Linked DNA regions of Homo sapiens: region 1 is linked to region 2. Evidence: fine-mapped expression QTL. A gene starts in region 2. The other region holds a variant in brackets. All regions are shown on one strand. Distances are between the middles of the regions.

What was found. PIP is the estimated chance that this variant, and not a neighbour inherited with it, causes the effect.
Region 1: its variant is the best candidate, but not a certain one, in a credible set for the expression of NDUFB6 in whole blood (TOPMed, PIP 0.82).

Annotation. Positions count from the first base shown.
Region 1 is chr9:32,505,486-32,510,868 of GRCh38, forward strand. The region is part of intron 1 of RIGI (RNA sensor RIG-I); the gene reads right to left. Among named protein-coding and RNA genes, the nearest start is that of RIGI, 18 kb to the right of the region's middle. RefSeq lists enhancers at 2,595-3,313, 3,314-4,030. The variant C/G (reference allele first, on the strand shown) is at 3,103.
Region 2 is chr9:32,570,022-32,575,404 of GRCh38, forward strand. NDUFB6 (NADH:ubiquinone oxidoreductase subunit B6) reads right to left here and starts at 3,138. Exons shown (of 4, transcript NM_002493.5): 1 at 2,860-3,138; 2 at 939-1,031. The coding sequence starts at 3,039. RefSeq lists enhancers at 2,686-3,225, 3,496-3,545.

The DNA.
Region 1 (5,383 bases), 65 kb before region 2:
GGCTGTCTCTTCCTCACTCAAATCAGAGACAGATTTCTCTTCAGGGACTTCATAGTTTTCTTCATATCATTTCAGCATTTTTTTTGTTAAATGTATGACTATCTTCAATCACACGTAATATCCTCTAGAAACCATCCTTCTACATATCTAATTATGTGTATAAATATATAGTTTTAAATAAGTAAGATTTAACAAATCTGCTCTTTTCCACTCAGTGGATTACAGGTGTTGTTTCCTATTAATAAATATGTACCTACATCAACTTTTAGTGGCTGCATAGTTTTATGTCACATAAATGTAGTATAATTTAATGTATTCCTTTAACACGAAACTAAAATGCGTTTAGTACACACCCATCTATGTCTTTACCTGCTTTACCAACTTTTCCCTGGAATAAGTTCTCAGAAGTATAATTCCTCAGTTTAACAGTATATGCTTTTAAATGTGGAGGCCAGGCGCGGTGGCTCATGCCTGTAATCCCAGCACTTTGGGAGGCCAAGGCAGGCGGATCACTTGAGGTCAGGAGTTCAAGACCATCCTGGCCAACATGGTGAAACCCCCATCTCTTCTAAAAATAGAAAAATTAGCCAGGCGTGGTGGCTTGCACCCGTAATCCCAGCTACTCAGGAGGCTGAGGTAGGAAAATCACTTAAACCTGGGAGGTGGAGATTGCAGTGAGCTGAGATTGCGCCACTGCACTCCAGCATAGGCAACAGAGTGAGACTCTGTCTCAATCAATCAATCAATCAATCCATAAATGAATAAATGAATCAATGAAGGAAGGAATGAATGTTAATACATTTTCCCCAACTACCTTCCAAACTGTACTAACCCTCCATCGATAGTGTATGAATGATATTTCCCTCCATAGCACTGAATTTGCTCAATCTTCATAACCTTTGCAAAACTGAGAGACAAAAACAGACCAAACAAACAAACTTCACTGTTTTTAATGATTTCTTGTGGGATTTCTTCCACCTTTGGCCAGTGTCTTTTGTTTTGGTTATTTCTTAATACATTTCCTGTTCATGTCTCACAGCTAGTTTTGAGAGGTCATTCATATTTTTTTCTAAATTGGATTTGTAAGAATCTTTTATGCATTTAGGGAAATGTTATATAATCTGGTTTGTTTTTCCAGTATATGAAAATACTGTTTTTCCAGTATAATCTCACTTGTTTTCCAGTAGATAAAAATGCGTGGCCTCCGTTTTTATTTTATTTTACGTATCTATTGCAACAAGACTGAATGAACTCTGTTAGTTCCAGTAATTTGGGGGAATTTTGTTTTTGTTCTTTATTTTGGCCAGTTTGCTTTCTTTGGAGTTAACTGGCTGTTCTTTTTGCAATTACTTCAGTCAAATTAATTAATTCATAAGTGTTCATTCTTTTGAAATACCAATAAATCCATTTAGGCTATAAATTCTGATTAAAAGCTTATTACATCTTAAAATATATAATATGTTGGCTGATTGCCGTGCTTACTTTTGAAAGTAGCTATACTTGTTTAGATTTTCTCATTCTGCTAGAAGTTACTCAAAAGGATGCTATTTTGAAATTCTGTGAAAATTTTTTTAAACCTATGATTAATTTCTGGGATATAGAATAATAGCTAACAGTAATTTAATACCATGCAGTTTAATTTCCAAAACACCCAAACATGGTTTTTATTCTGATTTTACAAATGAGGAAACTGAGGCATACGAGAGTTAAGACATTTGCCCAGTATCACAGAGCCTACAAATTTGAAAATAAAACTCATAAAAGTTATGCTTTGGGAATTTATTAAATATTTATCTGTAACTCATATAGGATCACTTTGGCAAAGCTTTTTAAGAATTGGAGGAGAAGGATATATTTGCTATATGATACAAAATGGAAAACATAGACATTAAATCAACCTTATTAAACAGATCATTTATGCTTTTATTATCATTTATCTGACTTAGCAGTACTAATAAAGATATCTTATAATTCCCATATTTCTTGACGTTTTCTAATATTTAATAAACAAAGATTTATGTGTACCAAATCTTCACTGATATCTCAATACCTTTATCATTTTATCTTAATACTTTCCACTAGTGCAATTTAAGTATAATTCTTGCTTTCTTTACGTATGCATTTATTTAATATATATTTGTCCCTTCTTTATCTCTTTTTTATTTATTTATTATTTATGAGACAGGGTCTTGTTCCATTGCCCAAGCAGAAGTACAGTAGCATGATCATAGCTCACCATAGGCTCAATTTTCGGGGCTCAAGCAATCCTCCCACCTCAGGTTCCCAAAGTGCTGGAATTACAGGCATGAGCTGCCAAGTCTGGCCCCCATTTTTATTTTTTATGTTATTAGACTTTACATGGGTCTCTGGCAGATGACCAAAACCTGGATTCTGCTTTCTGACTCATTCACACCTATTTAAAAGATGTTTGACCTAATTACATGGCCATAGCTGATATAACTAGTTTTCCTTGTGTTATCTTGTTTATATTTCCCTTTCCTATATTTTCTGGTTAGCTTAAATTACTAGTTTCTTTTCTCCTCTCAAGAACAACAAAACATATAAAACCTCATTTAAATGGTATCATTATCTGTAACCATTCATATAGCTTTTTAAAACTACAGAAGCAAGTGGAAAATGGTAATATTTTAAGTCTCCCCCTTTTGAGGCAAGGGATTTAACTCTTATTTATCATAATTTTCCCTAGCTCCTAACAGACTCAATCTAAAATTTTAAACCAAAGTATTTACTTAATTTTTTTTTTTTTTTTTTTACTATATGAAAATCCTCTCTTAAAAAATGCTTGACTAGGAACCAGGGCAAGATGGCCAAAAAAGGAACAGCTCCGGTCTGCAGCTCACAGAGAGATCAACACAGAAGGCGGGTGATTTCTGCATTTCCAACAGAGGTACCCGGTTCACCTCACTGGGACTGGATAGACAGTGGGTGCAGCCCACAGACAGCGAGCTGAAGCAGGGTAGGGTGTCACCTCACCTGGGAAGCACAAGGGGTCTGGGAACTCCCTCCCCTAGCCAAGGGAAGCCATGAGGGACTGTGCCATGAGGAACAGTGCACCCTGGCCCAGATACTATGCTTTTCCCC[C/G]CAAGTCTTCGCAACCAGCAGACCAGGAGATTCCCTCCGGTGCCTATGCCACCAGGGATCTGGGTTTCAAGCACAAATCTGGGTGGCCATTTGGGCAGACACTGAGCTAGCTGCAGTTTTTTTTTTCATACCTCAGTGACACCTGGAATGCCAGCAAGACAGAACCATTCACTCTCCTGGAAAGGGGGCTGAAGCCAGGGAGCCAAGTGGTCTAGCACAGCAAATCCCACCCCTACAGAGCCCAGCAAGCTAAAATCCACTAGCTTGAAATTCTCGCTGCCAGCACAACAATCTGAAGTTGACCTGGGATGCTCAAGCTTGGTTGGGGGAGGGGCATCCACAATTACTGAGGCTTGAGTAGGCCCTATTCCCCTCACAGTGTAAACAAAGCCACCAGGAAGTTCAAACTGGGTAGACCCTACTGCAGCTTGGCAAAGCCACTATAGCTAGACTGCCTCTCTAGATTCCTCACTCTAGGCAGGGCATCTCTGAAAAAAAGCCAGCAGCCCCACTCAGGGGCTTACAGATAAAACTCCCATTTCCCTGGGAGAGGGCACCTGGGGAAAAGGGCAGCTGTGGGCACAGCTTCAGCAGACTTAAATGTTGCTGCCTGCTGGCTCTGAAGAGAGCAACAGATCTCCCAGCACAGTGCTTGAGCTCTGCTAACGGACAGACTGCCTCCTTAAGTGGGTCCCTGATACCTGTGCCTCCTGGTGGGGAGACACCTCCTACCAGGGTCAACAGACACCTCATACAGGAGAGCTCCAGCTGGCATCTGGCAGGTGCCCCTCTGGGAGGAAGCTTCCAAAGGAAGGAACAGGCAGCAATCTTTGCTGTTCTGCAGCCTCCACTGGTGATACCCAGGCAAACAGGGTCTGGAGTGGACATCCAGCAAACTCCAGCAGACCTGCAGCTGAGGGGCCTGTTAGAAGGAAAACTAACAAACAGGAATATCATCAATATCAACGAAAAGGACATCCACACAGATAACTCATCTGAAGGTCACCAACATGAAAGACCAAGGGCAGATAAATCCATGAAGATGAGGAAACGCCAGTGCAAAAAGGCAGAAAAAAAATGTGATCCTCTTCTCCTCCAAAGGATCACAACTCCTTGCCAGCAACGGAACAAAACTGGACGGAGAATGAGTTTGACAAATTGACAGAAGTAGGCTTCAGAAGGTGGGTAATAAGAAACTCCTCTGAGCTAAAGGAGCATGTTCTAACCCAATGCAAGGAAGCTACAAACCTTGAAAAAAGGTTAGAGGAGTGACAACTAGAATAACCAGTTTAGAGAAGGACCTGAATGACCTGATGTAGCCAAAAAACACAGCACGAGAACTTTGTGAAGCATACACAACTATCAATAGCTGAATCAATCAAGCAGAAGAAAGGATATCAGAGATTGAAGATGAATTTAATGAAATAAAGCATGAAGACAAGATTAGAGAAAAAAAGAATGAAAAGGAATGAACAAAGCTTCCAAGAAATATGGGACTATGTGAAAAGACCAAACCTATGTTTGATTGGTGTACCCGAAAGTGACGGGGAGAATGGAACCAAGTTGGAAAACTCTCGTCAGGATGTTATCCAGGAGAACGTCCCCAACCTAGCAATACAGGCCAACATTCAAATTCAGGAAATACAGAGAACACCACAAAGATACTCCTCGAGAAGAACAACCCCAAGACACATAATCATCAGATTCACCAAGGTTGAAATGGAGGAAAAATGTTAGGTGCAGCCAGAGAGAAAGGTTGAGTTACTCACAAAGGGAAGCCCATCAGACTAACAGCAGATCTCTCTGTAGAAACCCTACAAGCCAGAAGAGAGTGGGGGCCAATATTCAACATTCTTAAAGACAAGAATTTTCAACCCAGAATTTCATATACAGCCAAACTAAGATTTATAAGCAAAGAAGAAATAAAATCCTTTACAGACAAGCAAATGCTGAGAGATTTTGTCACCACCAGGCCTGCCTTACAAGAGCTCCTGAAGGAAGCACTAAATATGGAAAGGAAAACTGGTACCAGCCACTGCAAAAACATACCAAATTGTAAAGACCATCGACACTATGAAGAAACTGCATCAACTAACAGGCAAAATAACCAGCTAGCATCATAATGACAGGATCAAATTCACACATAACAATATTAACCTTAAGTGTGAATGGGCTAAATGCCCCAATTAAAAGACACAGACTGGCAAATTGGATAAAGAGTCAAGACCCATTGGTGTGCTGTATTCAGGAGACCCATCTCACATGTAAAGACACACATAGG
Region 2 (5,383 bases):
TGCCTGTATTTGGCCAATCTCCCTATATATAACCCATCTCCTGTCACCACAACCACATCCCAGCATTAATACCTGCCTCACCTCATTCAGGTTCTGACATCTTGCTCTGAGTTACCACTTGCCTCACTGCCTCATACCATCCTTCTTCCAGATGTCCTCCTCCCTCTGCTCAGGTACCAATATCCTATACTAGGCTGTTGCCACTGTTGCTCCCCAAACAGATGTGCTCACCCTCCTCCCCTGCAACCCACTGAGGATCTAACACCCCTCTCTTGGTATACGAATGCCCTCCTCACTCTTTTGTGCTCCAACACTTCAGGCTACGCAGTCACCACTGCTCCCTCTGCCACGCCACTTCCCAAAATGCATGCCCTTCTCATTCTGCCTGGGATCCAACACCCTGCACCAGACCAAGCCTTTAAAATACCACAACTGGCTCAGTTCCATCAGCCCATGCAAGATCTGTATCAGTGAAAAAGTGCAGGCATCTGGACATCCTGAGTTCTAAATAAATAAAAATTGTGAAGAATCAGATAAAATGAAGGGAACAGAAATTGGGTGATGACAAAGATATGCTTTGTCTATTTTGAATTTTTACCTTATACGAGATACAGGTTTTTAAAAAGGAGCAGAATTGTTTTCTCCCTTCCTATTCATGACTCCAAATTTACCCTAGTATTATTAGGTCACTACATTCTTATCACTTAAATACTAATTTCTATGAGGAAATCCATTTCAAGTTGTAAACTAGTGACAATATTTTTTAAAAACTATACCCAATTATGTAACTTTCATTAAACCTTTTACCTAAGAGAATTCAAAGTACTTCAAAATCTGTTTATAAGTGGCAGATTATTTCCACTAAGTAGGGTAAGATAGCCACAAAGAAAGTAATTTTGGACAATATTAAAAATGAATTCTGAAAAGGACATACTTACAGAAACATGATACTTCATGTAATAATGAATAATCCAGACAGGTACAAGTACATGAGTGAAAACAAAGATACTCTTTTTGTATACCCCATGGACCTGGGGGGAAAAACACATACACAAAATAAACATATCCCATTTTTTATATTTATGGCAGAACAAAAGGCATCAATGATGTAACAATGCCATGACTATTTTACAAAACTCTAAATGGCACATATTTTCTTATAGTCTGTAGGTAACCTCATCTACTCAAATATTCTTAGTAAATGCAGAGTCTGCTAGAAGATACCTACAAAGTCCAGACCAAAATGCTTAAGCAGTATTTTGCAAGACTATAACAAGGCATTTATAGATTTTTTAAAGACTTCCAAAAATATCCTTATTATAAGTTTGTTAAAGATAAAATATAGCAAAATAATGAAAGAATAATTTTAATGTATTTAACCAGAGTAATCAAACCTACAGAATTTTTCAGGTATAGTCATCTCCCTTATTTATTGATCAATGACACTCACATCATTTTAGGTATAAGGCAGACAACCTTGACAACGCCAATGCTGGAAAAAGGACGTTTTACATACTAAGATGGGGTGTCCCAAACTCACTCCAAAATGCCCTCTGCAACACTATTTTAAAAAAGAACTAAAAATGGAACTTTCCCATGTCTTCCAACTTGATTAAAAAACACCTATCCATTCAAGGAAGGGACAATCCAGAATCTAAGAATTATAACAGATATGATTATAAAAGAATAAATTAAAGTAAGGTAAGGTGAACTTCGACACATTATTATTTATTTACTTCCTTATATCACTTGCTGATGGATGGGATGTCAACTTTAAATCAGTGACTGCCAATATTCCGATAATGTCAGGGATACAAAGGGTGGGAGAAGAGTTGAATTTTACCACCATAAATAAGTATCCAATATCACTTTCTCAGAAAAATTTTCAACAATTCTATTGCACTAGACTTTGTAGCACAGTAAGAATCAGATACATGTTGATTACAATATGAACTCATATTCAATTCCTAGCTCCCTGACCACCAGCAAATCACTGAAGCTTTGTAGGCCTCAGTTTCTTCACATTTAAAATGAGGATTAGGAATATCTACCTTACAGGAATAAAGAAATGAAGTAACACATGTAAAACCCCCAGTAGAGTGCCAAGCACACAGCAAGCACCCGTGTGTTACGTAGTATTGTTACTACTATTATCCTGTCATCAGTAAGTGTTGCAGGTAACTGAAAGCAATTCTGAGATGTTTATCATCCATAACAGTCCTCAAGAAAATACCCAGAGGCCTTGAAAATAAAGTTCTTGAATGAGTGATTTTCTTCAAAGCCCAAAATGCGATTTTTTTAATGAAACACTGTGTTAAAAGTACAGAACGGTAGTTTAGAAAGGTAGCTCTTGAATGTGACTCACAAGGCATACCAACAGGACCCTGTCTTTTACGGGGATCACATGGGGCTGTACTATCAGCTAGGGGCTGGCTGTGCCCTCTGGTGGTTGGATACTGTGTTACTTGGTCTCTAGAACCTCACACTTAAAAGTCAGACAAGTGTCCTCAAATACTTAAATCACAGAATTTTAATTCTAGCGAGTCCTTGGTTATTATTCTGAGGGAAGATTTCTACAGTCAAAAGAGAACCAAACGTGCAGCGTCCTGGAAAACCTAAGTATTAAAATTCGCCCCCGTCCACTGTACTTGACAGTAAAAGGCATGATTCTCTCAAAGCCATACATATTCCTGGACTCCTGCCTCCCGAGACTCCAGGAGGACTCTCGGGACTGGCCAGTGTCCCAGAGCACTGAGCGTTATCAGTCCTTGGTGTGGCTGCAGGGAGCGGACGTTCAGTGTTCAGGCTGCCGGCAGCAGTGGGATGTGTTGGGGGGGACCGGAGAGGTCTGTCACTCACCATTTTCCTCCAAGGGGATTTATTCTCCAAAAATTTATTCCAGAATTTCTCCATAGGCCCCATCTTCTGTGGGGGCAGCACCGGCTCCCGAGGGCTCAGCTCCTGGTCCTTCAGCCATCGCCTTCTCAGCTCTCGCAGCTGCTGCAGCCGCAGTTTCTCATCCGGAGTGTACCCCGTCATGTCGCCGCTGGTACCAACGCAAAAGGACACGGCGCACCCTCGAACTACGGACTAGTTACTTAAGCGCGCTCCCGCTCTGCAAAGCGACCTTGCGGGAACGCCGAGCGCCGCGCGCGGTTATTACGTCACATCCTGGTTCCGCCTCTGCAAGGGCCCCAGATTCCTCGCGAGGAAAGCAGTGTGTGGGCATGCACAAAGGTCTCCACCTCCAGTTCTCTCTACGCCCACCTCCGCTATACCCGACCAAATTAGGACCGGGTGGGGACAAGGAGTACTCGTAGTTGTGGGGCCTGAGGAAAGTGACAGATTAGACGAAAGTATGCTAAATTAGAGGACTGGAGGTTTTGCTAAGGAAGAACTTGTATGCTGGGAGGAGGAAGGATAAGCATAAATGTTTCAGTGAATATGCTGGCCAGATTCAAAATTATTTGCTTGCCTCTCCCACCTTGGAATGACCTAGAGAGTGTATGAAAATAGTTACATCCCAGTTCAAATCCCAGCTATGCCAGTAACTGCTGAAGTGCCCTGGGCAGCTGTCTCATCTGTCCCTCCATCTGTACAGGAATAGTGAAAAGAGTAGCTTAATATCTAGCAAAATTGCATAGATGAATTCATGCTTTCACCCAAAAATACGTGTGGTGAAAATATGAAAGAGCATGCACGACTATTCAGCACGATTCATAATACCAAAATATTGGAAATTACCCCCAAATTCCTAAATAAAGGACTGCTTGAATAAATTGTAGTACAACAGTCAAAAGACAGCATTACAACGAATTAGTTTAAAAATCTTAATTGACTCTTATTCGTGATTCTAGAATCAAAAAACACCTCATTCTATAAAGTAGAATGAGTGTTCTGATCAGCTGAGCAGAGGCGGTTGGTTTTATTGGCAAATAGGGGCTGAAGAAAGCAGAAACCGAACAAAAAGTGGACTCATCGTTTCAAAGTTACTTTTAGGGTTAAAGCAGAAGAAACTTCCTTGTTTCACTGACTCAGACTTAAGGGAATTTCCTATTTTTTGGGAAACTGGCCCATTTCAAAGTTCAGTTTGATTGTGTGGTACTTAGCACAAACGACTCCATTCTGGTTTGGTCTGGTCTGCTGGGGCCTAGTGCGTGAAGCTAGTCCAAAACAGTGGCTTCCCAAAAACTTTCACACAACAAAGCAATGAAATGCTAATACAATCGTCAAAAGTAATAAGGAAGAACTCTATATACATCTGTGGTGTGATCTCCAGAATACATTACAAAGTGGAAAAAAAATGGATAGGAATTTGTACAGTATGCTTTTACCCAAAAAGAGAAAGATGGTGGTAATTTCAATATATATACATATTTTCTTAAATTTTCAAAATAATGGGAATGAAAACAATTGAGGTTTTTAAAGATGCTACCTATGGTGGAGGAAATAAATAGGATAGAGGAGACAGGGATAGAATCTAGACATCTCTGGAAACATCTTACTTCATAAATTTGACTTTAGAACCAAGTAAATATTTCATATTGTGAAATTAAATTTAGCTTAAAGATGTCTCCGTATTTTGAGTCCTTATATAATGAACTGCAACCCAACTTAGTATGCAATTTAACTCACAGCCTAACTTAGGAATATACTTCTGTAACAAATAACTGAGTCTCAGCCAATCATCACAGGTGGTCAACTGATCAGCCCATGTTCAAATAAGGCAAAGGCCAACCTGTAGCCAATCAAGCTGTTTCTGTATCTCATTTCTGTTTTTTTTCTATGCGTGCTGCCTGGCCTCTTTGTGGAACGATACTTTCTGAACCTCCTCTGGTTCTGAGGGCTGCCTGATTCTCAAATTGGTCATTGCTCAATTAATTTCTGCTAAATTTAATTTTTCTAAAGTTTTAATTTTAACAATATCATTACAAAACAAAATTAAATTTACAAAAAGCAGTCCATAAAAATCAAGTAAAAACCAGTAGCTCTTAATTGGTCCACTTGGTGGCATAATCTCAAAGGTACACATCATTCTAAATACAATAGCCCTTGTAACAACGCTAGGGTTAGTAGTGCCAATCCCCTCCACTTGGCACAATCAAACATCCACATATAACTTTGGACTCTCCAAAAACTTAATAGCCTACTCTTGACCAGAAGTTTTACTGATAACATACAGTCAATTAACACACATTTTGTATATGTATTATATGCTATATTATTACAATAAAGTAAGCCAGAGAAAATAAACTGTTATTAAGAAAATCATAAGGAGGCAAAGAGAGGGGTTGGTCTTGCTGTCTTGGGGTGCCAGAGGCAGAAGAAAATCCACGTATGATGGACCCTCGAAGTTCAACCTGTTTTTTTCAAGGATCAACTA